6 separate regions of the Homo sapiens genome follow, and regions 1, 3, 4, 5 and 6 are each linked to region 2. The links come from fine-mapping of genetic effects on gene expression. A gene starts in region 2. Each other region holds a variant in brackets. All regions are shown on one strand. Distances are between the middles of the regions.

Evidence for each region. PIP is the estimated chance that this variant, and not a neighbour inherited with it, causes the effect. A credible set is the group of variants that fine-mapping cannot tell apart.
Region 1: its variant is the best candidate, but not a certain one, in a credible set for the expression of SH3BP5 in whole blood (INTERVAL, PIP 0.56).
Region 3: its variant is the best candidate, but not a certain one, in a credible set for the expression of SH3BP5 in B cells (Schmiedel 2018, PIP 0.65).
Region 4: its variant is the best candidate, but not a certain one, in a credible set for the expression of SH3BP5 in spinal cord (GTEx, PIP 0.56).
Region 5: its variant is the best candidate, but not a certain one, in a credible set for the expression of SH3BP5 in tibial artery (GTEx, PIP 0.52).
Region 6: its variant is the best candidate, but not a certain one, in a credible set for the expression of SH3BP5 in whole blood (INTERVAL, PIP 0.74).

What each region holds. Positions count from the first base shown.
Region 1 is chr3:15,301,468-15,306,439 of GRCh38, forward strand. SH3BP5 (SH3 domain binding protein 5) reads right to left here. Exons shown (of 9, transcript NM_004844.5): 3 at 2,636-2,764. Among named protein-coding and RNA genes, the nearest start is that of SH3BP5, 29 kb to the right of the region's middle. The variant G/A (reference allele first, on the strand shown) is at 2,083.
Region 2 is chr3:15,330,235-15,335,262 of GRCh38, forward strand. It overlaps SH3BP5 (SH3 domain binding protein 5), which reads right to left and starts at 2,352. Exons shown (of 9, transcript NM_004844.5): 1 at 2,037-2,352; 2 at 270-332. The coding sequence starts at 2,174. RefSeq lists silencers at 1,921-1,980, 2,061-2,460.
Region 3 is chr3:15,359,263-15,364,290 of GRCh38, forward strand. No RefSeq gene overlaps it. Among named protein-coding and RNA genes, the nearest start is that of SH3BP5, 29 kb to the left of the region's middle. RefSeq lists a silencer at 3,258-3,317. The variant G/A (reference allele first, on the strand shown) is at 2,593.
Region 4 is chr3:15,278,346-15,283,373 of GRCh38, forward strand. The region is part of intron 3 of SH3BP5 (SH3 domain binding protein 5); the gene reads right to left. Among named protein-coding and RNA genes, the nearest start is that of SH3BP5-AS1, 27 kb to the left of the region's middle. The variant A/G (reference allele first, on the strand shown) is at 3,071.
Region 5 is chr3:15,289,643-15,294,670 of GRCh38, forward strand. The region is part of intron 3 of SH3BP5 (SH3 domain binding protein 5); the gene reads right to left. Among named protein-coding and RNA genes, the nearest start is that of SH3BP5-AS1, 38 kb to the left of the region's middle. The variant A/G (reference allele first, on the strand shown) is at 2,402.
Region 6 is chr3:15,284,421-15,289,448 of GRCh38, forward strand. All of the region lies in intron 3 of SH3BP5 (SH3 domain binding protein 5), which reads right to left. Among named protein-coding and RNA genes, the nearest start is that of SH3BP5-AS1, 33 kb to the left of the region's middle. RefSeq lists a silencer at 3,917-4,092. The variant C/T (reference allele first, on the strand shown) is at 2,810.

The DNA.
Region 1 (4,972 bases), 29 kb before region 2:
AGCTTCACTTACTGTAAACAAGTAAATTATAACAGGTCATATGGGGAGAAGCCCCACAGGGAAAAAGGAAAGCAAGGCATGGGGGCTGGGGCTGGCAGGGATGGTGGGCTGGGAGTTAACCATTTTAAATGTTAGCCTGAGAAGGCCTCATGGATAAAGGGATAGACATTTGAGCAGAAACCTGAAGATGAGGAAATCGGGCTATGAAAATACCAGGACATCGCCAAACAGAGGGACACCACCAAACAGAGGGAAAGGCAAGTCCAAAGACCTGAGGCAGGAGCACGTTTCACATCAGCACAGCCAAGGGAGTGACCTGAATCAGAGGACCAGCCTTGAGAAACCCCAACACAAAGCCCCCTAGAGCCATCTCTGCCCCCAAACCTGAGCTCAGGGACCAGACAAGGAAAACTTCAGGTAGAGAAGCCACTGCCGCGACTCCAGTGGGATGCTTCAACAGACCATCCTTCAATCACTCTGCAGCATGGGCACGTGGGCTGCTTTTAATAGATACGCGTGGGCTAAATGGCATCACAGAACCATAAATCCCAGTGTTAAAGACTTTCAGGAAAGGAGGTTTTCTGAATTCCTCGATATTTATCCAATGTTTAAATTAAATCCTCAGAAGCTTCTCCTCAAACCTAACCTGAACCCTCCATACTTCCGTTTCAGGTCAAGAATGATACAACCTTGGCCTACAGTGGGTAGGACACATCCTCAACTTGGGGGGCATCTCAAAGATTAATCCAACGTGGACACTTTGGAGGGGGAATGCCTCAGGGTGCTGGAATCTGTGGGAATTGGAAAGTGCTTTTTGGAGAAGGGTTTCTTCTCCCGGGAATTCTAGAGGCCTGGGCAGGGCCCAGCTGGAGATGGAAAAAGGGAGTGGCTGCTGCTCAGGGCTTGTGCAGACCAACGAGCAATCAGAACTTTGAAGTATACAGCCCAATGCACCAGGCCAGGGAAGAAAGAAGGGTTTCAGGCAGCCACTCTGTCTAGGAATAAAGGCAACATATCTGGCAAGGTCCAACCAGGAACTTCAGCTCAGGGTTCAGAGCATAAAACCCAAACACACAGGTACGATCTTGGTAGAACTCCCAAAGCAGCAAGGGGCTCCCTTGAAGAGAAATGAGAGGTGCATGGAAATAGGAAAAAGAAGAGGAATGGTTAAGTCCTGGCCCTCATTCTCTATGGGTCTATCTTAATATATTCCTAGATTTCTGGGACTTAATTTCCAAAGGGTCCATCCTACTGATATCTCCCCCACAGTGCACAACACACTGTGCACATACACAGTAGGTGCTCAGAAACTTTGCATTGTTGTTGCTCTCTCATTTTTTCTTTCTTTTTTTTTTTTCTGAGACACATTTGTGCTCTGTCGCCCAGGCTGGAGTGCAGTGGCACGATCTCGGCTCACTGCAACCTCCACCTCCCAGGTTCAAGCGATTCTCATGCCTCTGCCTCCCTAGTGACTGGGATTACAGGCGCCCACCACCATACCCGGCTAATTTTTGTATGTTTAGAAGAGAGGGGTTTCAACATGTTGGCCAGGCTGGTCTCGAACTCCTGACCTCAAGTGATCTGCCCACCAAGTGATCGGCCTCCCAGAGTGCTGGGATTACAGGTGTGAGCCACCATGCCCAGCCTCACTAAACATCTTCTTACAAGTGGACACTTTTGAAGGCAGCATCTTCCATCATGTCATAAACACACCACAGGGACAGCACTGGGTCATTTGCTAGTGAACTACAATTTGGACCAACTGCTTAGATCTTCTTGGGAAATCTGAACTCTCATCTCAAGAGGCATCACAGGGTTGGTGATTCACATTAGCTCTCTAATCGGGAAGCCGAAGCAGGCTGAGGAAGGTGAATAAAGCCCCCAGCCCAGAGCCTGCCACACAGCAGGTACTAGTAACTGTTGAGGGCTCTTTACCTTCCCCATTCACAGGGCCTGGCTATCAGAGGCTGCAGGTGACACAAGTGGCACATCGCGTCACACAGCAGCCAAAGGAAGACCAACTCCTAAACCAGAACCCATTTCCACGCAGCCCCCAGCAATCGCCTGATCACAGTCCCCTCC[G/A]CCACTCCCCTTCTGGTCTCCGTTTCACTGCTTCTTATTTGGGCTCTCAGGACAAAGAACCAAAGTTTCAGCAGGACGATGGCCACGGAAGTCAGAATCCGCTAAGGAGTGTATAACAACTCACCTGCCAAATCTTAAAAAGGAAAAAAAAAAAAAGAAAAAGAAGAAGAACCGATGTTTCAAGAGAAGCAGAAGGCTAAACACTCCCAAGAGTGAGGCGAACGCGAGGCAGTAAGCGAATCTTCCTACTGCTGTCTGACAGGTTGTCATTAGGAGCGGAGGAGGAACACCCTCTGGACACGTCCCCTTAAGTGCACTCAGCACCAACTCAGGGAGAGCACCCACTTGCAGGGTCATCCAAATGCCAGCACTCACACCCTATTAATAGTGTCGAGCACTGGAATGAAGCAGATTGCGGGGCGGTGGGTCACTGCATTTAAGACATATTGGACTCGAGCTTCTAACCTTCAGCAGGTGATACAGTCAAAGGCACCCTTAAAACTGAGGGGTAGTGAGGCTCGAGGTAGGGGAGACATCTATGGGGCTATCTTACCTGCCTCGCCACCCTCCGTGCCTCCCAGTAGGGCTTGGAGTCTTCCACAGCTTTGCCAATTTTCTTCACCAGTTCATCCAGTTTCACCGTTGCTTCAACCAGAACAGAGCGGAACTTCTGACGAGCATCCTGCAGCCAGGGGAAACCGAGGAAACACAGTTGAGGCTTAAGAAGGGATCTGCAAACACCTACTGGACCTAGACAGAAACATCAACAAAGGACTTTACCCAACGTACAGACCCCTAAAGTAGCACCTTTACAAGACAGTGTCTAGAGCAGCACCGCCCAAAACAGCTTCCTGCCACGGCGGAAACGTCCTGTGCTCTGCACAGTGCAGTGTGGCGGCCACCAGCCACGTGTGGCTACTGAGCACTTAAAACTGGCCGGTGTGACTGAGGAAAGGAGTTTTTAGTTTATTTAATTTTAATCATCTCGGGTGTGGTAGCTCACGCCTGTAATCCCAGCACTTTGGGAGGCCGAGGCAGGCCCATCACTTGAGGTCAGGAGTTGGAGACCAGCCTGGCCAACATGGCAAAACCCCATCTCTACTAAAAATACAAAAATTAGCCAGGCGTGGTAGCAGGTACCTGCTGTCCCAGCCACTCAGGAGGCTGGGGCACAAGAATCTCTTGAACCCAGGAGACAGAGCTTGTGGTGAGCCAAGATCATGCCACTGCACTCCAGCCTGGGTGACAGAGCACGACTCTGTCTCAAAAAAAAAAAAAAAAAAAGCTTAGTAAGCAACAACAACGCAAAGTTTCTGAGCACCTACTGTGTATGTGCACAACATGCTGTGCACTGTGGGGGAGATATCGGTAGGATGGACCCTTTGGAAATTAAGCCCGTCTCTACTAAAAATACAAAAATTAGCCGGGCATAGTGGGGGACACCTGTAATCCCAGCTACTCAGGAGGCTGAGGCAGGACAATCATTTGAATCAGGAGGCAGAGGTTGCAGTGAGCCGAGATCGTGCCACTGCACTGCAGCCTGGGTGACAGAGTGAGACACTGTCTCAAAAAAAAAAAAAATTAATTCATTATATTTAAAATTTTTTAATTAACATGGCTAGCAACTACTATATTGCATAGCACGGTATAGATTAAAAAGCTTTGTCCAGGACCTCTGGACAGCATGTTGTCAAAGCTCAGGACTTTAATCAGAGACATAGATTCAACACTGACCAAACCTCTATCTGGGGAAGAATGTCCAGCCATCTCTGACAGCTTCAGTCCAAATGATGCTGTCAATGTTAAACACTGAGTGCAAATTTATTTATTTATTTACCACATGCCAGACCTGGTGCTGGGCCTTGGGCGTGGCCCTGTCTCCAGGGCACTTACAGCCTGGTGGGTGAGGTAGGTATTACAGCCCGTTCCAGAAAAGTCAGTGCCAGGGTGGGAATGGTCCAGTCGCCATGGAACTCAGCAGGGAAGAATGGCGCCAGACCATGTATTAGAGGGAGAGTCACAGGAAACTTCCAGAGGAGTACTATCTAAACAGAAGTCCAAAGCATGAATAGGAAATTGGGGGAGGGGAGGAAAATACTGAGTCCCAAGCAGGCAGCAGAGCCTGTGTCCAGATAAGAGGGGAATGGGAACAGCATGGTGTCTGCAAGAAACTGAAGGAGGCCGGAGGTCTGGAATGTGGAGAATGGCAAGAGATAAGGGTGGCCATCCATCCTGGCGACAGCAACTAGCAACTTGGACCTTGATAGGAGTTAGGAAGGCAAAGAAGGACTGTGCAAGGCTTAATCATGTTGTAAAAGTCAAGAAACCAGATCCAAGAGGTATAAGGAGAGAAAAAAAAAATTAAATAAGTTAGTCCCAGGTCTAGGAGGACCTATTGGAAGGGATCAGGTCAGTGATTCAAACCCCACATCCCCTCTACCTCTCCCTCAGGCATCTGCCTGACAAAGCCACACCTAGGGGAAGGAAGGACACATGCATGAGTTTAAAAAAAAAAGAGAAATGGCAGCCGGGCACCATGGCTCATGCCTGTAATCCCAGCACTTTGGGAGGCCGAGACGGGTGGATCATGAGGTCAGGAGATCGAGACCATCCTGGCTAACAAGGTGAAACCCCATCTCTACTAAAAATACAAAAAAAAATTAGCCAGGTATGGTGGTGGGCACCTGTAGTCCCAGCTACTTGGGAGGCTGAGGCAGGAGAATGGCGTGAACCCGGGAGGCGGAGCTTGCAGTGAGCTAAGATCGCGCCACTGCACTCCAGCCTGGGAGACAGAGCGAGACTCCGTCTCAAACAAACAAACAAAAAACTAGCTGGGCATGGTGCCGTGTGCCTATGGCCAGGGCGGAAAGATCGCTTAAGCCCAGAAGGT
Region 2 (5,028 bases):
GGCTTAAGCGTTGTGTAACGCTCTGCACAGACTTGGTTTAGGCCCCATGGAGCTTCCATAATGAAAAACAACATGTGCAATTGGATCCACATGCGTTCCGCCCACAGGTTGAGCTCAGTGGTGTATTTTATTCTGTCAGGGAGCTGTTGCTCAACTCCCAAGGAGGGGGGTCCAGCAATAACACTCCAGCTATGAAGACAAAATTAACCAGCCTTGTGCCGGTGTGAGTGACATCACTTCACCAAGAACAGGAACTCAGCTCTCTGTACCTCAAGTTCAGTCTCCCGTCTGTTGATATCATCCGTGGACTGATTTAACTTCTCCAGTTCTCCCTGGTGAAGAAAAGAGGGAGAAAAAAAGACTTAAGGGATCCGTCTTTTGTTTCCAATATAACTCAGTCCATAACCTGAAAAATTACCCCAGCCCAATTTGCAGGAAAAGGGAAGAATCAGAATTAATTCTTACGGCAAACAGTTGAGGCTTGACTAGAAAAGCAAATGAATGTCGGCATTTCTGAAACCATTTTCTTGAGGGTGTCCCTTTTGACAATGTCTTCAGAGACATTTGGAATTTGTCAGAGGTCAACTATTCCAGGTACATGCCTTCAGGTAAACCCCACCTGTTACAAATGGTTTAATGGCCTAATCAAAACAGTACCATCTGCCTTGAGCAAGAACTTTGCTTAGAAAACAATAAAAGACAATAAGCAAGGCCAAGCCAAAAATATAAACCCAGTGAAATCATCAAGGGCAGAATTCTGGTATTAACTCACCAGAATTATTTTTCTGTAAAGGGTGAAAATCTTTTCACACTGCCAATTATTCAACCTACTTAGCTGGACGTTTTAAACTAGCTTTAATCCCATTCCTTTCAATAAACATTTACAAACTGACATTTTGTAAAAAAAGTATCCAACATGAACTTAACTCATCATTACTATGCAAACAAAGGATCTTGCTAACATAATCCCATACCAGTAACACACGATTTATTCCAAACCAATTACTTTAATTAATAGCATTCCTAATGCAAGGATTTTTTTTCCACCTGATCTTTATCTTGCTAAGCTGACAAAACAATTCATTTAAACCCCAACCACTGAGTTAAGTGAGCTTTTAAATTGATCTGTGCACTAAAAAACCAATTAGGTATCCAGAAATTACAGAGCATGCTTAAAAGCAATTTTTTTAAAAAAATGATTTATTGAAAAGGTAGAAAAAAAACGGGCCTTAGAAAGGGATTTGCTCTGCTTTTTGCTTAGGGGTGAAGAGGTGAAACTGTCACTCCTAGATCTCGGCTTGGAAATTGTTTTTTAATCATCTCTCTTGGAAATGGAGGCACAGCCAGCCAGCCCAATCCCCTCGCCGCCTCCACGCGTCAGCTTTGCGCATCAGTTGTCCCCGATTTCTTTTCATGCCCAACCTCACAACAAGGAAAAGCAGGGTTTTAAGCAATTTCAAGCCAGGCAGAACGTTGAGCCAGTGATGACAATAAGCCGCTCAGTTCGCTAACAATCAATCAGAGAAGGAAAACGGCTCAGGCCGGGCACCTTGGCAAGTGAGGACTCTGCACCCGGGGCACCGGTGCCAGCCCGCGCTGCAGGGCAACGCCCACCCGCCCACGGTGCCCGGCGCCCACGCGGGCGACACCTCCTCGCAGAGCCTGGACGCCGTGCCATGCCCGCGGTGCCGCGGCCGGGCAGGGGTACCCCCGAGGATACCATGGCGCCCCCGCCCCCTTTTTCCCTTTGTTGCACATCCACCCGAACCACCAGGCACGCTGCACCGACCCCGATCCTGCTACGGGTCGGCGGGGGACTCCCCGCAATAGAGTCAGGCCGCATCCACGCGGGCACTGTAGCCTCCTCATTGTGGAGACGATGAAACGGAGCATACAGACCGTCTCCTGCCACCCTATGTGGCCGCCAGTCCCCGGACCACAGTTACTGGGGGCTGCGAAGTGGCTGTACGCGTAGACACCGACCTCCGTAGCAGCCCTCGCGAAGCCCGGATGCGGGGCGACCCCGCGCGCCCTACCTGGATCCGGGGATCCACCTCTTCTTCCTCCTCCAGCCCCTGCTCCATCCCCTCTTCCTCCTCCTCCTCCTCGTCCCGGGCAGGCGGCAGGATTTCGGCTGGCTCCTCCGAGCGGCTCCGCTTCAGTGCCGCGTCCATGCAGGCAGCCGGCACGCGCGCCGCGCAGTGGGCTCCGGAGCGCCCCGGGGGTCGCGGCTGCCACAGGCTGGGCTGGAGCCGCCTCGCCACAGCCGGGCACGGTCGGGGAGCCGCCGGGGCCGACACCCGGGAGACGCAGCTCGCCGATGCGGATACCTCCGGCCGCGGCGGAGCAGAGGAAATGGGCGCGGCCGCCCCCTTTCTGCCGCGGCAGTCAGCGCAGCGCCCGCTCCGCCCCCGTCCCGCCCCGGCCTCGCGTTCCGCCGCCAGTCCCAGCTATCCAGGTCTCCGTCGCAAAACCCCAGCTCCCTCCACATCTCCAAGGTGGCAAAATAGGACAGCCCCCACCCCCTTGTAACTTAGCAGCTCGGATATATCTCAACTACGTAACGCAAGCCTCCCGCTTTCGGGAGTCCCCTCCTCCAGCCCTCCTCCGAGGCTCGTTGTTTGTGTGGTAGGGAGGCGTGGGTGTTTTCACACTGAAGTCGCCTTCTGAAGCCTACGCTCAGTGACCCTGGCCCTCAGGACCAAGACTTGCCGAAACCCTATACCCAAAGCACACTCATCCTCTTGAGCGAACCTTGGGAATGGCGGAGGTTCCGTGCACTGATGCATTGCCGAAGGCTGCGGCCTCTCTGGGCGAGCCCCATACCGAAACACAGAGGTGCGGCGGTCCTACCTGAATAGCCAGGAGCATGGAGAATGCATTGAGCTGGGATTTAAGGAGGTGGCAAGTGTAACCCCTGTTGATGGGCACACTCTGGCCAAGAATTTATGAATTAGTGAGACTTTCTGCCCACCATCAACAAGTAGGGAGACAGAGTTGGCCTGGCAGACACAGCATCCGAAAAGGCCAAACTGAAGAGGCACGTGTGTGTGCTTTTATGAAATGTCAGGGCCACTGTGATGTCAGGGGAACGCAAAGGATGACCTTGGCAAAGCAGATGAGCACATGGCTGCTCACGTCTCCTTGCCTTGAGAAATGCAGAACGTGCACATGTCCTACACGGAGGCCTGTAGCCCATCGGCTCTGAGTTTGGAGGACAAATTTGCTTGAGAAAGGAGCTTCTTTCTGAGAACCTATCATCAAAGCCACCTTACAAAACCTGGGTCTGGCACAACGTGGTGGCTCGTATCTGTAATCCCAGCTCTTTGAGATGCCAGGACACAAGGATCACTTGAGGCCAGGAGTTCAACACCAGCCTGGACAATACAGCCAGACCCCTTCTCAAATGAATAAATAGTCCTGCTCCTGGTGGTTTTATCAGAAACTAGGCTAGAGGGTTACTCCTTGGGCAAGGCACCACCCCATACACGCTGGCACTGTAGTCCACTGTCAAAGGAAATTTGTCCTGTCTCCTGGAGGTAGTGCCATGGTTTGTTTCTAAAAAGGTCAGACCTGTTCATTGCTCTTTAAATCAAGGATGAGTCAGCAATTCTGTGAGAGGTGCTTCAAAGCTCCTTGCTAAAGACATAGTTGCTTTTGGTTTTCCAATGATAGATGAAGCCAGGAACAAGATAGCCATAGGGGTCACTTTGGAACACAGGAGCCACCAACCTTCTCTGGTGGCTTGGAATTGAGCCTCCAACTTTGCAGGTACATCCTAGCTCTGAATGAACTGAGAGACAGAGTTTGAAATAAACAGAACTCTGGGGTCAGCCCTGACTATGATAAATGCTTCTCAGCTAGCAGAACCCTATCCTCTCCATTCTAAATGGCAAACTCCAAACTACATTCCTGCTTAAGCTTAGGTCAAGAGCAAAATACATCTATGAGACATAGGCCAACTGCTCAAGAACATCAGTTCAGACTTTTGTTGTCTTATTTTTTGGAGATCTGGGCCAGCTATAGTGTTAATCCTAATAGTCTTTCTAAAGATAAAATGAGAAAAATAAATAAACCACAGGCAGTACTATATACAGTCAACCCTCCATAGCCTCTCAGGTTCCACATGTGTAAATTCAACTAACCACAGATAGAAAATATTTGGGGGAAAAAAACACAACAATTAAAAAAATGCATATTTAAAAATACATGGCCAGGAGTGGTGGCTAACACCTGTAATCCTAGCATTTTGGGAGGCTGAGGCAAGGAGGATCACTGGAGGCCGGGAGTTCCAGACCAGCCTGGGCAACAAAGCGAGACTGCCTTGCTCTCTAGAAAAAAAAAAAATACAGTATATGACAACTATGTACATATTTGCATTGTATTAGGTATTGCAGGTAAGAAATCTAGAGCTGACTTAAAGTATACAGGAGGGGCTGCTCATGGTGGTTCATGCCTGTAATCTCAATACTTTGGAAAGCCAAGGTGGGTGGGTTGCTTGAGCTCAGGAGTTCAAGACCAGCCTGGACAACATGGTGAAACACCATCTCTACAAAAAATACAAAAAATTCGCCAAGTGTGGTGGCTCATGCCTGTAGTCACAGCTATTTGGGAGGCTGAGATGGGAAGATTGCTTAAGCCCAGGAGGTAGAGGTTGCAGTGAGCTGAGATTGCACCACTGCCCCCCAGCTTAGGTGACAGCAAGACCCTGTCTCAAAATAAATATATATATATAAATAATAAAGTATACAGGAGGGGCCAGATGTGGTGGCTCATGCCTGTAATCTCAGTCCTTTGGGAGGCCGAGGCAGGAGAGACGATCGCTTGAGGCCAGGCGTTTGAGACCAGCCTGGACAACAAAGCAAGACCTGGTCTCTAGGCCAGGCATGGTGGCTCACATCTGTAATCCTAGCACTTTGGGAGGCCGAGGCAGGTGGATCACCTGAGGTCAGGAGTTTGAGACCAGCCAGGACAACATGGTAAAAATACAAAAATTAGCTGGGCATGGTGGCACATGCCTGTAATCCC
Region 3 (5,028 bases), 29 kb after region 2:
TCAACAGATACCTTTGTTTCTTTTTTTCTTTTTCTTTCTTTCTTTTTTTTTTTGAGAGAGTCTCACTCTCTCACCCAGGCTGGAGTGCAGTGGCGCGATCTCAGCTCACTGCAACCTCCAAGTTCAAGTGATTCTCCTGCCTCAGCCTCTCGAGCAGCTGGGACTACAGGCGCATGCCACCACGCTCAGCTAATTTTTGTATTTTTTGGTAGAGACAGGGTTTCACCACATTGGCCAGGTGGGTCTCAGAATTCCTGGCCTCAAGTGATCCTCAAGCCTCAGCCTCCCAAAGTGCTGGGATTACAGGCGCATGCCACCACACCTGCCTAATATCTGTATTTTTAGTAGAGATGGGGTTTCACCACAATGGCCAGGCTGGTCTCAAACTCCTGACCTCAAGTGATCCACCTGCCTCAGCCTCCCAAAGTGCTGAGATTACAGGCGTGAGCCACACACCTGGTCTACAATTTTTTTAATTAAAAAAAATTTGTTTTGGCTGGGCACAGTGGCCACCTGTAATATGAGCACTTCGGGAGGCTGAGCCAGAAGGATCACTTGATCCTGGGAGGTCAACACTGCAATGAGCCATGATGGTGCAAGCTGCACTTCAGCCTGGGCAACACAGCAAGACCCTGTCTCTACAAAATAAAAATAAATAAAAAATTTAGGGGCATGATGGCATGCACCTGAGTCCCAGTTACTTAGGAGGCTAAAGTGGGAAGACCCCTTAAGCCCAGGAGTTTGAGGTTATGGTAAGCTATGATCACACCACTGCACTCCAGCCTGGGCAATAGAGCAAGACCTCATCTCTGGAAAGAAAAAAGTGTATCTGTGGCTCCCATTGTATTTCTGTTGGACAGTGCTGCTGCTATTTGTCTATATAGTAAGTACTCAGGAAGACAATTTGTTGGAAGAAACATCAGGAGGCCATTTTTTTTTTTGTAATCCCAAAGTGCTGGGATTACAGGCATGAGTCACCGTGCTCGGCCCTTTTTTTTTTTTTTTTTTAGATGGAGTCTCACTCTGTCACCAGGCTGGAGTGCAATGGTGTGATCTCAGCTCACTGCAACCTCCGCCTCCTTGGTTCAAGCAATTCTCGTGCCTCAGCCTCCTGAGTAGCTGGGGTTACAGGTACACAACACCATGCCCAGCTAATTTTTGTATTTTAGTAGAGATAGGGTTTCACCATGTTGGCCAGGCTGGTCTCAAACTCCTAATCTCAAGTGATCCGCCTGCCTCAGCCTCCCAAAGTGCTGGGATTACAGGTGTCAGCCACCACACGCAGCCTCAGTCTCTCTTTTAAACAGATTTATTGTATAATGTATATATCATAAAATCCAGTTTGGTGAGTTTTACTAAATTTATTGTCATGCAACCATCACCACATTTCTGTTTAAGACAATTTCATTGCCCTAAAAACTTTCCTTGTGCCATTTGTATTCTATCCCTGCTCTCAGCCACCACTAGGTAACTCCTGATCTGCTTTCTATATCTATAGTTTTGTCTTTTCTAGAAATTTCATATAAATTAGATCATACAATATGTGGTCTTTTGTGGCTTCTTTCACTTTAGCATATTGTTTTTGAGGTTCATTCTTATGCACTGTGCTTTTCTTGGCAGTCTCAATTTTTCAGCCTACTTTTAGAGAAAACAAAAATGAGTGGTAGAAAATCTGGGGAAATTCCTCAGTAACTTGATCTGAGCCTAGAAAAGTTGCCAAGGTTAATAAAAAACACCCTGAAAGTTCCATGTCACACTGGGATTGATTTTAAGGATACTGCTCATCTCTCTTTCCTCCTTGTTTTTAAAAGAAAATTGACTGTGTTGGCAAAAGTACTCATTTCCTCATTTTACCTTCCTGTTCTTGTCTATAAACTTACATAATTTATACATTATGTACTCATAGTGTAGATACAAATGTGGCATTCTGTATTTCATTTTCTTTACCATAAAATGTTTTTAAAAGTAATGATCATAAACTTGCTGACCAGCATGCACACTCTCACCTGGAAAACTGAACAGAGGTAACTGCTTTTTATGGAATTTAACAAGACAGTCATTCATTTATTTAACAAAATGCAAGCTCTTACAGCTCTACTTTATACTGAACTCTAACCAGATGAATCTAACATCCCACGGTCCTAAGATTTTGCATTACAAGTCATGCTATTTGTTTAAATAACAGGAAAAAAAAAAAGACAGAAACACTTTAGGAAGCCAATTTTCCTTGCTAATGAGCAGATACTAAAATAATGAGTATCTTCTGACTACCTTCCTCAAACCACTGAAAAGTTTACCCATTAATCATATGTGAACTTTGAAGCGTGGGTGGCTGGAGCTTCTCATAAGCACATCCTTAAAGATGAAACCACATATAAATTGCTAAAGGAATCACCCGGTGAAAGTCAGACTGTGATTAGTAGGTATGGGGAGGAAGGAGAAGTTGAAAGACCCAGGCTGGGGTCAAACCTCTTTCAGTTACGTTTTTAATCAAATTAAGTCAAAACTAACGTTTCATGTCTCTTTTGCTTATTATTGACAGCCGTGTTTAGCTCAGCCATCCCCCACTGAAGCGAACTGTGTCAGTGCACT[G/A]TCAGATGCAGCTTTGGAAGACAATTGCTGTCCCTGCTGGCTTCTTCCCTCACGTGCCTGTGTTTCAATGCCTGAGGGCTCCTCTGAGCCCACACACAGGACTGGCCAGAATTGCTGGGAGGTAACACCCCAGGACAGCCTCAACAGATGAGGGCTAGGAGCTGGTGAGTCCACCCGCCAGCCTCCTCACCGCTGCACAGTCTCTCAGAGGGGCCTTCACAGGACTGCGGCCCAGTTGTCCTCTGAGGTATCCTGCTCGGCAATGTGCCCTATGTGGCTTTTCTCTCTTCCCTGTCTCACTTCCTTACTCTGCCTCCTAGAATCATTTCTTAAATAGATGATTTGCCCAAAATCCTTTGCCTCAGGGTCCACTTTTGGGCTAACCGAACTAAGACATCTACAAAATTTTAGATAGGAATAGACTTTAAAGGGATCCTTTGACTTTTTTTTTTTGAAACAGCATCTCACTCTGTCACCTAGGCTGGAATGCGGTGGCGTGATCTTAGCTCACTGTAACCTCCGCCTCCCAGGTTCAAGCAATTCTCCTGCCTCAGCCTCCCGAGTAGCTGAGATTCCACACGCCTGACATCACACCTGACTAATTTTTGTATTTTTAGTAGAGACAGGGTTTCTCCATGTTGGCCAGGTTGGTCTTGAACTCCTGACCTCAGGTGATCCGCCCGCCTTGGCCTCCCAAAGTGCTGGGATTACAGGTGTGAGCCGCTGTGCCCAGCCTCCTATTGCTACTTTTTAACAGAAATCTCTGTGTCTGACTCAGACCCAGAGAAAAGAAACCACAGTGATCAGAGTCATACACAAGGGGGTGCCCTCTAGCAGGTTCGCCTGAGGTTGTCCGCCTCCCGCCTCATGCTATTAACATTCCATAAACACGCCATGGCAGAGAGCAGGGCACTGCTGAAGGTTTACATGCGGTAACTGATTTCATTCTCACAACAACCACGTGAGATGAGTGCTGTTACTGTCCTCATTTTACAGAGGAGAAACCGAGCATTTAAACTAATTTGACCAAGGGCATAGGGCTAGAAAGGTGGTGTTTAAGAACATCCCAGTGCTTTCTAGCCCTTTCTAATCCAAGGGCTAGAATGCTGGAATTGGGATTCCAGCCCAGGCAGCCTGGTTCCAGATTCAAGGACACAGCCCTGAGCATGTGAGGGTATCTGAGAGCTGCCTGCTTGATTTGGGGGTTACCATGTGTAGAGAAAGGAAAGAAGATGGTCTATGTAACATCTTCAAATGCTTGAAGGCTTTGAGCAATGAACCTCCTTGGTGGTTGGGTGAAGAATTCTATAATGAGTGGATTCTTTCCCAGAATAGTACTTTTTTTTTTTTTTTTTTGAGACAACTTCTTGGCTCTGTCACCCAGGCTGGAGTGCAGTGGTACAAACACAGCTCAGTGCAGCCTCGACCTCCCGAGCTCAAACAGTCCTCCCACCGCAGACTCCTGAGTAGCTGGGATCACAGGCACGCACCACCACAACCAGCTAATTTTTTCATTATTATTATTTTTAGTAGAGACAAGGTCTTACTGTGTTGCCCAGGCTAGTCTCAAACTCCCGGACTCAGGCAGTCCTCCTGCTTTGGCCCCTTAAAGTGTTGGGATTACAGGCATGAACCACCATGCCCAGCCAGAATAGTATTTTTAAGTGCATAAAAGAAAACACATAGGATTACAAAGGAAACCAATTATACTGAAATGCACTTATCAAAATGTTCCCCCAAACTGTGACACAGCAATACAGTGCTCCTTTGGTATACACAGGGAACTGGTTCCAGGACCCCTGAGTACACCAAAATACCTAAATCTGGGCATACTCAAGCTCTGCAGTCAGATCTGCAGAACCTGCGTATACAAACAGGCCTCCATTTACAGGGGTTTGCATCTCATGAACGCTGTATTTTCCATCCACAATGGGTGGTAAAAACTCCACGGTTAAGTAGATCTGTGCAATTCAGAGCTGTTATCCAAATATCCAACTGTATATGCATCCATTCTATGGGAGTGATTACACGTGAGAATGGGCTCCATAAAAGTGTCAATTCTCTGTCATTAGACACTGACAGGAATAGGCTGAGTTGACCAAATGGCTGGATGCTTTCAAGATAGACATCAGAGGCAACCTCCACCTTCATTAACTTTCTGTTTCTTTTTTTTTCTTTTGAGATGGAGTCTTGCTGTTGGGAAAAGCTGAGTGTTGGGAGAAGCTGAGGCAGGGCTTGCACGTCTGACATAATGTAAAAGAGTCTTGGAACGTGTCCAGGGTCCATGGTCTAAAACTCCTTGTGGCCTTTGGAACACCAAGCTCTGTGCTAAAGGGTGGAAGGCTGCCCTGGCACAACATAATCTAAGCCCAGGGCATAAAATCCCTCATGGCTTGGATAGACTCCAGGGCTCGTGGCTCTGGAATGTGTCTAGAC
Region 4 (5,028 bases), 52 kb before region 2:
AAACATCAAAATGGACAAGAGACAAGGATGTCTGTTCTCAACTTTATTAAAGCCGTGGTTTTCTGCCTATATTCTGAGGAATCCCAGGGACCGGCAGTTCATGGACTGCCTGAGTCCTTCCAACCTGCAAGCTGCCCATCCTGCACTCCCCCTTCAACTCCTGAATGATGCTTCATTGAAGAGGACCAGAGATAGAAACTGGCCATTCTGATAGCACCGTTTCACCCCTGAGGATGTCTGGCATATATTTTAATCCAAATTATCTCAGAACAAAGTTTCCTTTGAAAACATCTTCTGGAGAGAATTCCATTAAGCCCATTTAGTTCCTTGATTATTTTTCACACCGAGGTGCTTCTAATTTTTCATTTTTATTTAGTCAAAATTATTCTCCTGAGGATTGATTCCTTTCTATTTCAAATAGATTTGATTGAATGAACAGTTTCATCCATATCAAATTTTACTAAATGTAGCTTGTGGCACGGAGTTTTTCATTATTTCTATCAAAATTTTCCTGAATCAGTTTCTTAAAGATCTAAAAATTTGGTGAGGCGTGGTAACTCATGCCTGTAATCCTAGCACTTTGGGAGGCTGAGGCGGGCAGATCACCTGAGGTCAGGAGTTCAAGACCAGCTTGGCCAACATGGCGAAACCCCATCTCTAATAAAAATACAAAAATTAGCTGGGCCTGGTGGCAGGCACCTATAATCCCAGCTACTCAGGGGGCTGAGGCAGTAGAATCATTGGAACCTGGGAGGTGGAGGTTGCAGTGAGCCGAGATCGCACCACTGCATTCCAGCCTAGGCAACAAGAGCGAAACTCTGTCTCGGGAAAAGAAACAAACAAAAAAAAAGATCTAAAAATTTGTCAAACATAGGGGACATCATTTTTTCTCGGTCCCAAAGGTTACCATGTACAGTCTGAGCCATTATCAGTTTAATAGTGTTATTTCTCCCAACAATGTATATTACAAAGTAAACAAGAAATCTATGGTATGTATCTACCCTTAGAGAAATGAGAAAACCACGGGCAGTCTTAAGAGAGACAGCACCTGCAGCTGTACCATAGACAGACTACAGAGCCCTTTAATATGTCGGAGCAGCAAGAGAGCTTTGCAGGGTTAGAAATATCAAGGTCAAACGGTTTTGTTCCAGCCTGAGCTTAAAGGGGAACTTTTAAAAAATAAAAATGTAAAAGCTACTACTTGCTTCAAAATACAGCTAGGAGTAAGAAGGGAGAGCTGGGGGTGGGGGTAAAGATGAAACAGGATTGCCCCAAGGTTGGTAATAGAAGCTGGATGACAAACATCCAAGGTTCCATTACACTGTTGTCTATTTTGCATATATTTGAAAGTTTTGACCCCAGTTTCTGGCAAGACAATCCCTACTGCCAACAGTCATCCAGACTAACCAGGGGTGAGTCTGACTCAAGGGTTTCGGTTGGGGGCATCAGGGAAGGTTCATCAAGCACTGAGCCCACCTCTGCTTATCTTCAGTACTAGACACCAGCCTGCAGTTCACCTCTGGACACCGCATGTTCAGACACAGCACCCAGAGGGCTTCCCATTGCACTCAGGAAGCACCGGTTCCTCTGCCTTAAGCTGGCACTATTTGTCACCCTACAGAATCTCCCTAATTCATGTAAAAGCTGGCAGGAGGATGGTCTTGGGCCTTATGTTTTCACAGGGCACTACTTAGCCTGAGTCAGTGTGCCTCGGCTAGTTAGCCGACTGATGTCTATGACCTGTCCCCACACTTCCATCCTTTCACAATTACAAGCAGCTTACAGGGCCTGCCAGCTACACACAGCAGGCCTCCGGGAACGACGCATCCCAAATCAAATCCTTCCTGTTGCTGCAGCAACCCCATAGATGCCAGGCTCTTCCTGCCCACCCTAGCCAGAAGGGTGCGCCCACATTCCTCCTCATCCTCCTCCCGCTCTCACCTTCATGCTCTAGCAGTGTGCCACCGGCTAGAGAATCGACTGGCCAGGTGCAAGGCAGGGGCCTGAGCTGGGGGTAGACAGCAGTACCCAAAAGGAAAAAAACCCCACAACAGCACCCCAGGGTACCACCACCAAACCTAGACTCCTCACCCACAGAACCAAATAACAGGGTCTTTGCGCTCAGGGAGACGGAGACAATGTAGACCAATTGTTTTATTTTCTAGGAGAAAACTTCAGAGCCTAACAAATAAATTGGCCTGCTCAAAGCATCAAGCCTGGGTATTCTATCAGCCCCAATCCAAGCTGCCTTCCCTGCCAGCCAGCCACACAGCCATCCCCGACATCACACTCTCGCACTCTCTCTGTCCCCAAAACACACACGCAACATGCCCCACCTCTTAATTCTTCAAATGTGTGCAAACTCACAGAGCTCCTCCACTGCGGTGGGTTTCCCTGAGCTCAGCAGGGCTGTATCTTCCTCCCTGCACGTCCACTCACAATTCTCTTCCATCTCTGCCTTTGTCCCCCACCTACACTGTCATTCCCAGGACCCACAAAACACCAGCATCTCTTAAGACACACACACACCAATCAGGGAAGCTATTTCATCCTCCACTGGGATGCACGATGCAGACCCAGGCCACGAACCTGGTCATTGCCTGACATTGTGAGGGAGTGGAGAGCCCTGCTTTATGCCGCACGGTGGCAGAGAACTGGAATATTGCACGCCGGGAAAGTCCATGTGTTCTGTAATTATGCCTCATGACATTCCTTTGCAGTTAATGAGTAGCTGCCGGTTTCCAGTCACAAGGGTGGAGCATAGGAGTGGAGAGGTGGATGTATAAAGAACTGGGATGCCAGAAGAGGAAAGAGCATCTCCCTCCCCTAAGCTATAGCTATAGCTAATTTTTGTATTTTTAGTAGAAACAGGGTTTCACCATGTTGGCCAGGCTGGTCAAGAGTGAAACACGGTCCCCCAACAAGAACACATTTTGATGCCGTGCACAAAACTGGCATTGATTTGACCAGGACAATTGGACCAGTGACAACTGGGCCACTATGAGGCCATGGTCTGTGTCAAGAGAACCAGGAAGAGCAGAGTATATCCCTGGCACCAACAATAACCATT[A/G]TCTTGGGTCTACAACCTTGAACAAGGACCTGAAGGCATCAGATTCCCTTGGCAGAGCTCTGATCTCCCGACTCCTACCTCTCTCCTTCCTCTCCAGCAGAAGAACCAGGTGGCCAGTTGCTCCCTCCCCCAGTCCTGCCTCTCTACAGGTACACACTTCTCTGCCTGGGGGTTGCGAGCATAACACCCACTCCTCCAGTAACTGCTCCCCAAGTGCATGGTTCCACCTGCACCATGTGGACAAACAAGCCCCCTGTAGCTCTCCAATCTTAACACACCATAATGGCAACAAAAGAAACATTTTGGGCCAGGTGCAGTGGCTCACGCCTGTAATCCCAGCACCTTGGGAGGCTGAGGCAGGTGGATTACATGAGATCAGGAGGTCGAGATCAGCCTGGCCAACATGGTGAAACCCTTTTTCTACTAAAAATGCAAAAAATTAGCCGGGCGCGGTGGTGCATGCCTATAATCCCAGCTACTCAGGAGGCTGAGGCAGGAGAATTGCTTGAACCTGGGAGGCGGAGGTTGCAGTGATGAGCCGAGATTGCGCCACTGCACTCCAGCATGAGGTGACAAGAGCGAAACACGGTCCCCTCCCCCAAAAAAAGCACATTTTGATGCCTTGCACAAAACTGGCATTGATTTGACCAGGACAATTGAGCCACTATGAGGCCGTATTCTGTGTCAAGAGAACCAGGAAGAACAGAGTATATCCCTAGCACCAACAATAACCATTGTCTTGGGTCTACAACCTTGAACAAGTCACTAAACTTTTCAGATTGGAATGCCAAGGCCTCTGCTAACTCCAAGGAAGCCTCAGTTACAGTACTGAAAATACATAATTATACATAATTACAGCAGGGACCCATGAGGAAAGTTCTGTAATGCAGTATCTGGCTTAAACAACATACGCAAATTGTGAGCAGCAGACTAGTTAACCACAAGCTATGTTGCTTTTGCTATCTTATTTATTGCTGTGCAAGTTTGCAAATTTTCCATAATAAAAAAGTTTACAAAATTGCTTCTCAATACATTTCTTAATCAGCTGTTGCTTTGCTATTTACCTACCACACAGTTCTTTCTTTAAACTCGAAATTATGTCACTGGCTTAAGCAATAGCATAATTTGAGGGGAAAAGGGAGATCCATACTATTTATCAAGACAAAAAATAACCACGGTTTCTAGTCAAATGTTTTAAACCAATCACAATAAAACTTTTTTTAAACAGCTGGGGAAATTTGAAAAAGGCCTGGATACTAGATGATATTTAAAAACTAATTTTGTTAGGTGTAAAAATGTGACCTTTTAAAGGTTCTTACCTGTTAGAGATACATATCTAAATACTTAGGTGTGCAGTGATAAATCTATGAACAGCTTTAAAATAATCAAGGAAAAAGCTAGAGGGGGAGGGTGGACGAAACCTGATTGGCAAGAGGTTAACAATTGTTGACGCTGGTGATGGGCACATGTGGTCCACTGATTATTCTACTTTTGCAGAAATTCCATAATAAAAAGTTGTAAAGAAATATTTTTTGAAGGCGTTGGTTCATCAGTTATCACTTTTGTTCTTTACCTTCCACATAATCACAAAACTCAAGAAAACGCTTACTAAAAGAATAGGGAAAACCAAAAATATTTGTCAATGGTTGTCCTCATTAAAGGCAACATTTCAAATAAATGAGCAAACAAAAGTAAAACAAGACCAGGTGCGGTGGCTCACGCCTGTAATCTCAGCACTTTGGGAGGCCAAGGCGGGTGGATCACATGAGGCCAGAAGTTCAAGACCAGCCCGGCCAACATGGCAAAACCCCGTCTCTACTAAAAGTACAAAAATTAGCTGAGTGTGGTGGCAGGCGCCTGTAGTCCGAGCTACTCAGGTGACTGAGGCACGACAATCCTTGAACCCAGGAAAGGGAGGCTGCAGTAAGCCGAGATTGCACCACTGCACTCCAGCCTGA
Region 5 (5,028 bases), 41 kb before region 2:
GCTATTATTTTGTGCACAAACAATGTAGATTTCAAAATTTCAGGCCACATACCTTCACCCATATATTTTCCTATGGCCTTGGGTGTTGATATGGGGCTAGGCAGAAGAGGAGCCTACATAAACTAATACGGCATCTTACACCTCATGATTTCCTTCCAACAGCTGCTCTCAATAAAGGGCCCACTGTAGATACCTTCTACCACCTTGGATGAGTGCCCAGGTCAGTGTGAAAACAGACACCCCCCCTTCTCTACATAAGGAGAACCTTCACTAAGCTGGCCTTACCCTGAGATCAAGAGACTTAAAGAATGCAAAAACCTCAGAAGATTTTGATATGCCACTGCTTTTAGAAATAACACCAAGCACTTTCTCTGGGGTGTGGTGCTTTGACAAAGGGCTGGGGCATACACTTGGGGCTGACAGTGAATTGATGAGCACAGGGCATCTTTTTTTACTTCCATTTAAACCACTTCCTCAGGCCGGGCACGGTGGCTCACACCTGTAATCCCAGCACTTTGGGAGGTCAAGGCAGTTGAGGTCAGGAGTTTGAGACCAGCCTGGCCAACATGACAAAACCCCGTCTCTTCTAAAAATACAAAAATTAGGCTGGGCGCGGTGGCTCACGTCTGTAATCCCAGCACTTTGAGAGGCCAAGGCGGGCAGATCACGAGGTCAGGAGATGGAGACCACCCTGGCTAACAGTGAAATCCCATCTCTACTAAAAATACAAAAAATTAGCTGGGCATGGTGGCTCACGTCTGTAATCCCAGCTACTTGGGAGGCTGAGGCAGGAGAATTGCTTAAACCTGGGAGATGGAGGTTGCAGTGAGCCGAGATTGCGCCACTGCACTACAGCCTGGGCAACAGAGTGAGACTCTGTCCCAAAAAAAAAAAAAAAAAAAAAAAATTAGCCGGGTATGGTGGCACACACTCATAATCCCAGCTACTTGGGAGGCTGAGGCAGGAGAATCACTTGAACCTAGGAGGTGGAGCTTGCAGTGAACTGAGATCGTGCCACTGCGCTCCAGCCTGGGTGACAGAGCAAGACTCCGTCTCAAAAATAAAAATAAACCACTTACCCAAAATGAAACCTACAAAGTGAGGCTTCCTAACCAGAGCCCATCATTGCCTTAACTGAAGCAAACAGGTGCTCCATCCTCCATGAGAAGGTAAACTCCCCCCATGCCCATGAAAGTTTTAAATGGAAGAAACTAATAAATATCAAACTAATAAAGGCCATCGAGAATGGAGAAGGGGAAAGAACTGGTGGGAGGCAGAAACAGGAAGTGGCTGGAGAAGACAGGGGAAGACACAGCTGAGGAACCCACATTCCAGAAGATTCTTCAGAAGAGACCCAGTTGATGTGGCCTCCCATGAAGCCCTTCGGAATTCTACCGGGAGCTGACCAGCTCTCAGCAAAACCAAGCTAGTGAGGGTTGGGGTGGACAGAAAAAAATACTAGACCCAGCTCCTTATCTTAGAAACTCAATTTCGTCCCAGAAACACCAGGCTTGGGAGTAGCTAGAACAGCAGCATGAGCATTCGCATGCTTTTTAGTATCACTCAACTCTCCTGTCTGTGTTCACTTGTGCCCACTCAAGGCTACAGGCTAAGGAATGACAAAGTGGGAGCCAGGGTTCCTCCACAGCTCCACATGCTGTGGATTCAGGAACCCCAAGACAGGGCAGCTGACCCCAAAACTACTTTCTCTCTCTGGCTGATCAACACTACAAATTCCCTTTTGGTAGGGCTGCCAGATTTAGCAAATAAAAATATAGGCCTTCCAGTTAAATCTGAATTTCAGGTAAACAATTTTTTTAGCTTATGTACCAAATATGGCATAGAACAAATTTATACCTAAAAAAAAAAATCTGAAATTTAACTGGGTGTTCTGTATTCCCATGTTCTATCCGCCAATCTTACTTCTGGCTTAAACTCCACAAGGACATCCCACTGGGTAGAAATGAAAAGTCTACCTACAGCCTGCACTTCTAAGCATTTCCCACTTAGTGTAAAGGGTGTAGTTCTGTCTCTCACATGTGCAGAGGTTCCCACAGCATGATGAACCCTGAGTTGGGAATATGCAGTCCCACCAGGTTGGAAGCAGGGTATTCCAAGCTATGGGAATGTTTGTAAGTCAGAACCACTTGAAGCCCCAGAGACCATAAATCTCTAAGTCTTATCAGTCATTTACTTCTCAGCATGAATAATTTCATCAGATTCTTCAGGGTAGATTTTCATAGAAGTCACAACTGGAAGGGCTGGGGAAGAAGTAGAAAAGAAAGGAAGGAAAGCAGGGGCATCCTCTGAGTCAGGAAAGGAACAGAAGGTGCACCAAGAGTGCACAGCCGGGGCCCAAACCTCGTCACCAGGCAACATAAAAAGGCCAGCCTGTGTCGAC[A/G]AAACTCGTAGCAGAAACACAACCTATGCTCTGATTTCCTTTCACTGAAAAATTAATCACTCTGCCACTCTTGCCAGGGAATGCCTGTGGTTTACAGAGGGGAAGGGGCTATCCATGTCCATGCAATCACTTTACTGAAAGCAGAGTACAGTTGAGAAGAAGGAAGGAAACATCTGAAGAGCATCATGGTTTCAGGGAACCAAACTCCACACCCTGTTTCCCCTCTAACCACTATGCTGTGGTGACAAACCACACCTGTTAGCTTCACAGAGAACACTGCCTGCCCAGCAGCACCAAGGGGGGCTCAGCCATGCCTCTGTGAATAGCAAAGGAGATAAGAAAAAGGGAGTTGCCCATGACAAACCTCCCAACTAACAAGGTGATGGAGGGCAGCTCCTCCAGCCCAGTGCTTCCTGGCTAAGACCTGCCTGCAACCAGTCCCCCACGCGGACTTCCTGCCACCTGCCAGACAGAATGGGGTTGAATGCAAATGGTTCATGGCATCACCAGAAAAGAAAACCTAAGCCAGGCGCGGTGGCTCATGCCTGTAATCCCAGCACTTTGGGAGGCCAAGGTGGGTGGATCACCTGAGGTCAAGAGTTTGAGACCAGCCTGACCAACATGGAGAAACCCCATCTCTACTAAAAATACAAAATTAGCTGGGCGTGGTGGCGCATGCCTGTAATCGCAGCTACTCGGGAGGCTGAAGCAGGAGAATTGCTTGAATCCGGGAGGCGGAGGTTGTGGTGAGCCGAGATCACACCATTGCACCCCAGCCTGGGCAACAAAAGCGAAATTCCATCTAAAAAGAAAAAAGAAAAGAAAACCTCAAGATCAGCAACACTCTCCCTGCTCCAGCCCCAGACGCCCGAGGCAGAGCCAGCCAAGCAGGAGGTGCAACCCTTCTGGCAGAAGCCCAAAAATCTACTTGTGTGTGTCAGGAGCCTTTGACCTGGGTCAAAAGCTGCAACACATCTCCTTCCTGACCCCATCCTAATTCAAGATTCCAAGTTTCCAAAGTGCAGCTGCTTCTTTCCCAGAATCTTCAGCCAAGACTGTCAGGCAGGATGTGATCTTTCAGGCGAAGGAGAGTTAAGAGTCCATGCTCAGTTCTTGCCATAAATCTCCAGGAACTCTGCTTTGAGACAGATGCCCTGTCATTCCACTACGTGCCCTTACTTTGGGCAGCAGGAATGACGCAGTTCCCAGGAACTGGCCTGTGGCCACCCAGGGGGAATGTGACCAGGGCCACAGGGAAGAACGTCACTGAGCCAGACCTCCTCACCCAAAGTCCCGTGGCAAGAACTGCCCCCAGGCAGGCAAGTGGCTCTGCAGAGATAAAGTGACGGGGAAGAAGGAAGGCATGACAAAGCCACACTGAAGTCCTAGCAGGAACAGGGCACCATGAGGGGAAAGTTCCCAAGGACTCCAGATTCTTGGAACAAGAGCTTCTCGGAACAAGAGCTTCTCAGTTACCCTAGCCAAGAAGAGGCAGGGGTGTGCAGGGAAATAACTGCACCAATGAGCTCAAAAACTGCCTTTAGTCCTAAAAGCCCATTCTCCTCAGATGTGCCAGAGTGTCTTTCAGATTTGCAAATAGTCATAAATGCCTCCTATGTGCCAGGCACCAGCCAGAACCAGGTAGACTTGGTTTAAACCTTCACTCCTGTCCTCGCAAGGTCTGTGATGTTAAAGTCCCCAAGCCTCAGTGATTATTCCCCCTCAGTATGATGAAAATAATATCGTCTTGCAGGCCGGACGCAGTGGCTCACACCTGTAATCCCAGCACTTTGGGAGGCCGAGGCAGGCGGATCATCTGAGGTCAGGAGTTAGAGACCAGCCTGGCCAACATGACGAAATCCTGTCTCTACTAAAAATACAAAAATTAGCCTGGTGTGGTGGTGTGCACCTGTAGTCTCAGCTACTCGGGAGGCTGAGACAGAAGAATCGCTTCAACCTGGGAGGCAGAGGTTGCAGTGAGCCGAGATTACGCCACTGCACTCCAGCCTGGGCGATAGAGCAAGTCTCCATCTCAAAAAAAAAAAAAAAAAAGAAAAGAAACAAGAAAAAGAAAAGAGTACCACTTTGCAAAAAGTACTCGCTGTAAGGATTAAATGAGATAATGTACATAAAAGACCTATGACCACAAACCCAGGCCCCTAGCACAGCCTCAACAAATCAGGGCTGCAGATAGCCCCTTAAGAGAACACAGACTCTAAGCCCCAGTTTCTTCTTCTGCAAAAGTAAGTGTGTGTGTGTGTGTGTGTGTGTGTGTGTGTGTGTGTGTGCGCGCGCATGTTTACGTAACTCCCCCTCATGCATGTAAAACACTTAGAAAGTGCCTGGTATACAAAGAGTGTTGAAATTACTCTTCTTCCTCCTCCCTTCCATCCTCCTTTCTTCCTCCCTTCCATCCAGTAAACTGTCACCGCCATACCACTGACTCCCATTTTCCCTGCATTCTGGATAGATAATTAACCAAGTCTGTTACAGTCTCCCTTCACATTCTCTTAGATTAGGCCACAACACCGGAAAGGTTTATGTAAAGGCCCAGTCTTTGGGCTCCAAGACTAGTTTCCTCATTCGTACTATAAGGCCAAAAGGGAAACAATGACAGCCCCCGCACA
Region 6 (5,028 bases), 46 kb before region 2:
ATGTCAAACTTTCATAAGCTAATCCTGGGTGCTACTAGTCTCTATTTGGCGACTGCTTTCCAACACACTTGAAATAAATGGGTTCAAAGTCGTTAACATTCCTCGTGCCTCAGATGAAAATACTCAAAATAAATGATGGAGGGGAGTTATCTGTCAATGGCCCCTTCCCTGCCAGCTGGGATCAACAAAAGGAGCCTCTCAATTGGAGAGCTTCTCCATATTGGCCAGGATTGGTCTTTTGCCAGCCAGTACCTCACACAACAGCTTGGCCTCAGTCCCAGGGGATGCCATTTAACAGAGGCAGAGGACACACCCACTCTAGACAAAGTGACTTCAGTTAACACCAACTCACTCTGCAACTCAGAAGCCCAGAGCTTTCTACTCTTGGCCTATGAGCCTGGGAGAGACCCATAAAAGGTATGTGAAGGGAGAGGAGAGAAGGACAACTCAAACCCAGGGACACCAGCACACACTGGACGACCGAATGCCTGGTGAGTGCCCCAGACCCAGGACCTTTGGAGTTAAGATGCTACAGCAAAAAAGTCTGGCAACCCACAGCCCTCTCCTTTATGCATAGTACATAGGATTTCTAGGATCTCGTCACAGCAGTATTGCCCCTTGTGTCCTGGAAAGTCTTATGAGAGCCAAAACTGTGTTACTGAATTTAATTCCCATATTCTAGCACAGTGGCTGGTACACTGCAAATGTTTAAGAAATATTTGTATAATTAAGGTACCTAGCTATGGTAGAAATGATAATCCACAAACAACTCCCTTATGATCAATCGTTATTCATGCATTTGCGATTTTTTTCTCCTGTGACTCCTGCAATTAGATAAATGTCTATCTGGACAGGTTTATCCTTGAAAATGGCCACTTAGGGTGATGTAAAAGCTCACCTGAATAATCAAACTGTATACAGAAAGTCATGTCATATGAACGCCATTCTCTCAAGATCTAACTCATTCCCCGCTCCGCTCAACCTCACCCCTTCCAAGCTGGGCGATACATAACCCAGATCCCAATGGGGCTTCAGGAAATTAAGCCTGGGAAAAGAATTTACCCTCTCTGACTTCATAGGACCAAGTTTCTGTACTTCTTTTGTCAGTTTGCCACGTTATAAAATAGTATATGTGAAAAAATACTTTGAAAACTGCCCAACGCCATGAACATATCAGGAATACATCTCACGAATTATTTCACCATTCACTTGGTCTTCTCAACAAGACTGCAAACTCTTTGAAGGCACCGTGAGTCCTCACCACTAACATGGTAGAGAAGCTGCACTTAGAAACAGGTGCTCCGCCAAGCCCTCCAGTAGCCAGGAACATTGGCTCTTCTCTTCCCACCTCCTCCACGTTTCAGACTTCCCTGGGTCACTCAGCACTGTTTGTTGCCTGGTACACTTAAACACAGCCAAAGGAGCAACTGGTTCACTGAAACGTCAAACCCCTACCTCCAATCTAACTTTGCTTCTGGATCAGCATAACTTGGCTTAATTTTAACTATCACCTGCAAGAAGATCTGCAAAGGAATTCAAGGTCAGAGGGACACAGATGAAAATGAGGGCCTAATATAAACATGAATTAGCAAAACATACCTTTCTGGTAAGCACAGCATATGAAAAATCTGAGGGATCTATTATCATGTAAGTGGGAAGACGCTCGGCATGGCTGCAGCCGGCGGGCCCTGGCCAGAGCAGGCTATCAGAAACAGCATCAGAGCACAAGGGCATACACAGCTAGTGGCCCCTCTGGCTGCCGGAGGCCATACCACTTCAGGCCACCTGTGGGCCTGTGGAAGGATGGGAATGGCCTAGTGACAGGGCCAGGGTAGCAGCTCCGCCCCTGCCTGGGGAGGCAGAATCGGCACAAACTGGTGTGGCAGGGGCTCTCCATGTGAGCCCGGGTTCCTGGCAGATCTCATTTCCACCTGGTATTGCCAAGCAAAGCAGGTCTGAGGAACTCAGGGGCCTTCTCCCAGCTCTAAATGGCTGGGAACAAACTTCAGCCAATGGAACTGAGAATGAAAAAGGATAAGATATCCACACAGAGAAATCCAAATGTCTCAGGGTTGAAATGACTACACCTTAAGCCTTTGTAATTCTGTCAATTCCAAACACTCCTTTTTTATTTCTTTTGTTTTTGAGACAAGGTCTCACTCTGTCGCCCAGGCTACAGTGCAGTGGCAGTGGCACAATCACGGCTCAGTGCAGCCTCAACCTCCTGGGCTCCAGAGATCCCACCACCTTAGCCTCCTAGGTAGCTGGGACTACAGGAGCACACCAACATGCCCAGTTAATTTTTTGTATAGATGGGGTTTTGCCACGTTGCCCAGGCTGGTCTTGAACTCCTAGGCTCAAGCGATCCACCCGCCTCAGCTTCCCAAAGTGCTGAGATCACAGGCATGAGCCACCATGCCGGGCTGCAAGCATTCCTCTTTAAAGCAAGTACTCATTTTTCATCTTTACTTTGCACCACGCAACATGAAGATGCGGAAAGGATAAGATGCAATTTCTGCTCTCAAGGAGCTCACGGTTCCAGGGCAGGCTTCTTGACCCATGGTTTAGAGGTTGGGAACACAGATCAAGACTCAGGCTTCTAGACTCATTAGCTGTGTGACCCTGAGTACTTTCTTACTTCTCTGTGCCTCAGTTACCTCACCTGCAAAACACAGATAATAACAGAACGTAGCTCATAGAGTTGCTGCAAGGAATAAGTGAGTTAATACATATAAAGTGCAGAGAAAAGGCACGCAGTAAGCAGTACAGAGTGTCAGCTGTCATATAAGCAAGCATTATGTAGCATTAG[C/T]TTGTGGGTATTAACCCACATGACATGCATGATATTTAAAGGGACGCAACATATACCATGAAGTTATAATTTATGCACCCATGCACATGTCTGTTTTCAGAGGATGACAACCATAACGCTCAAGTTCTCAAAGAAGCAGAGCTGACAAAAAGCCGAGGGAGCGGGGCTAAAGGAAGGGTTCATGAAAGTTACATTGACTTGTGCCTTCATTTTAATCCAGCAAAGGGTAAAAGCTAAGCAGTGCTGTCCAACAGAACTTTCTGCAATAATGGAAATGTTCTCTATCTGCACCGTCCCAAAATAGTAGCCAGCCTCCACGTGTGGCTACTGAGCACTTGAAATATGGCCAGCCAGGGTGAATCAATGAATTTTTGGTTTAATTTTAATTAATTTACATTTAAGCAGCTATGTGTGGCTAATGGCTACTATTTTGAACATCACAGAGCTAGTCAGTCTGGGAAGAAAGAAGTCACAGGCAAAGACTGGATTACGCAATGATGCAAAACATTCCCTGATGTAATCAGAAATCATGAGTAGAACACCACGACGTACCCTGCAATTGTGAGTAGTGACGTGCGTGTACACTGAACCACAGCACAGAGAAGTCCAGATGCCGAAAGACAAGAGGGGCCAGGCCAGGCCGTGAAAAGCTTTGTGCGCTGTGGTCAGATTTGGGCTTGACACTGGAGACAGAAGAAATGTTCTGTACTAGCCAGGGTTCTCCAAAGAAACAGAACTGATAGGATGTTTATATAAGCATTTATTATAAGGAACTGGCTCGTGCAATTATGGAGGCTGGCAAGTTCAAAATCTGCAGAGCTCAAAATCTCCAAGTAGGCTGGAGACCCAGGAAAGAACTTACATTGCAGTTCAAGACCAAAGGCCGTCTGCTGCAGAATTCCCTCTTGCTCATGGGAGGTCCCTCTTTTGCTCTATTCAGACCTTTAACTGATTGGATGAGGACCACCCACACTGGGGAGGGCAATCGGCTTTACTCTAAGTCCACTGATTTAAACGTTAATGTCATCCAAAAACACCCTCGCAGTAACAACCAGAATTATATTTGACCACATATCTGGACACTGCAGCCCAGTCAAGCTGACACATAAAATTAACCATCACATGTACTAAAGTTTTTGAGCAAGACTATCAGTAGAACTCACTTTGGTAAGATAATTCAGCCGGGAGGCAGTAGGGAGGGATGGAGGTTTCAGGAGGCAGGAAGACCGGTTGAAAGGCTATTTCAGGCCGGGGGCGGTGGCTAACGCCTGTAATCCCAACACTTTGGGAGGCTGAAGTGAGTGGATCGCTTCAGCTCCGGAGTTCAAGACCAGCCTGTGGAACATGGTGAAAACCCGTCTCTACTAAAAATACAAAATTAGCCAGACATGGTGGTATGCACCTGTAAGGTGAGGTGGGAGGACTGTTTGAGTCTGGGAGGCAGAGGTTGCAGTGAGCCGGGATTGCACCACTGCACTCCAGCCTGGGTGACAGAATGAGAGACCCTGTCTCAAAAACAAAACAAACAAACAAAAAAAGGCTATTTCAATGCTCTGGGTAAGACATGAGGGATTGCACCAAAAAAGTGACAATGAGAAATGACTCATTTAGTATTTGTTAAAGTATGAATGAATGGATTCTGTGACTTTACAAAACACTCACTTTATGAGAAGCTAGCATTTCCTCACAAATCTCCAACACAATGTAGAATGGGAAAGGAGGTTTTCCATACAACATAAAGGGAGGGAAGTGATGTAGCAGAGAGATACAGGTAGTTACCATAGATACGGAGATACAGGTAGATACAGAGATACAGGCAGTTACTATATTTCCATGCTCAAAAGAGTCTTATGCCTGCTCTGTGGGTAACTTAAGCCCACCTTTAACTCCTTCTAACTCACAGCCTTTCTAGAAGATAAACTATAGTACCAACGTGGCAGTCTGTTAGCTGCTCCCAATATCCATTCCCCGCTTCATCCTTAAAACAACCTTGCCTGGCTAGCTAAAAGACTCCAAGTCAAGCCTCCCTTGCAGCTACCTGTGACTACCTGACCAAGTTCTAGCAATGAATGGAAAATGTGTTGTCTGGGACTCCCAAGTAGACTCTTTAAAATAGAAGGGACATATATCCCTTCCTCATTTCCTCCTTCTGTCCTGAAATGCAGATGTGATGGCTGGAGTTCCTGGAGCCATCTTCAACCACAAGGTGACGTGGAAGA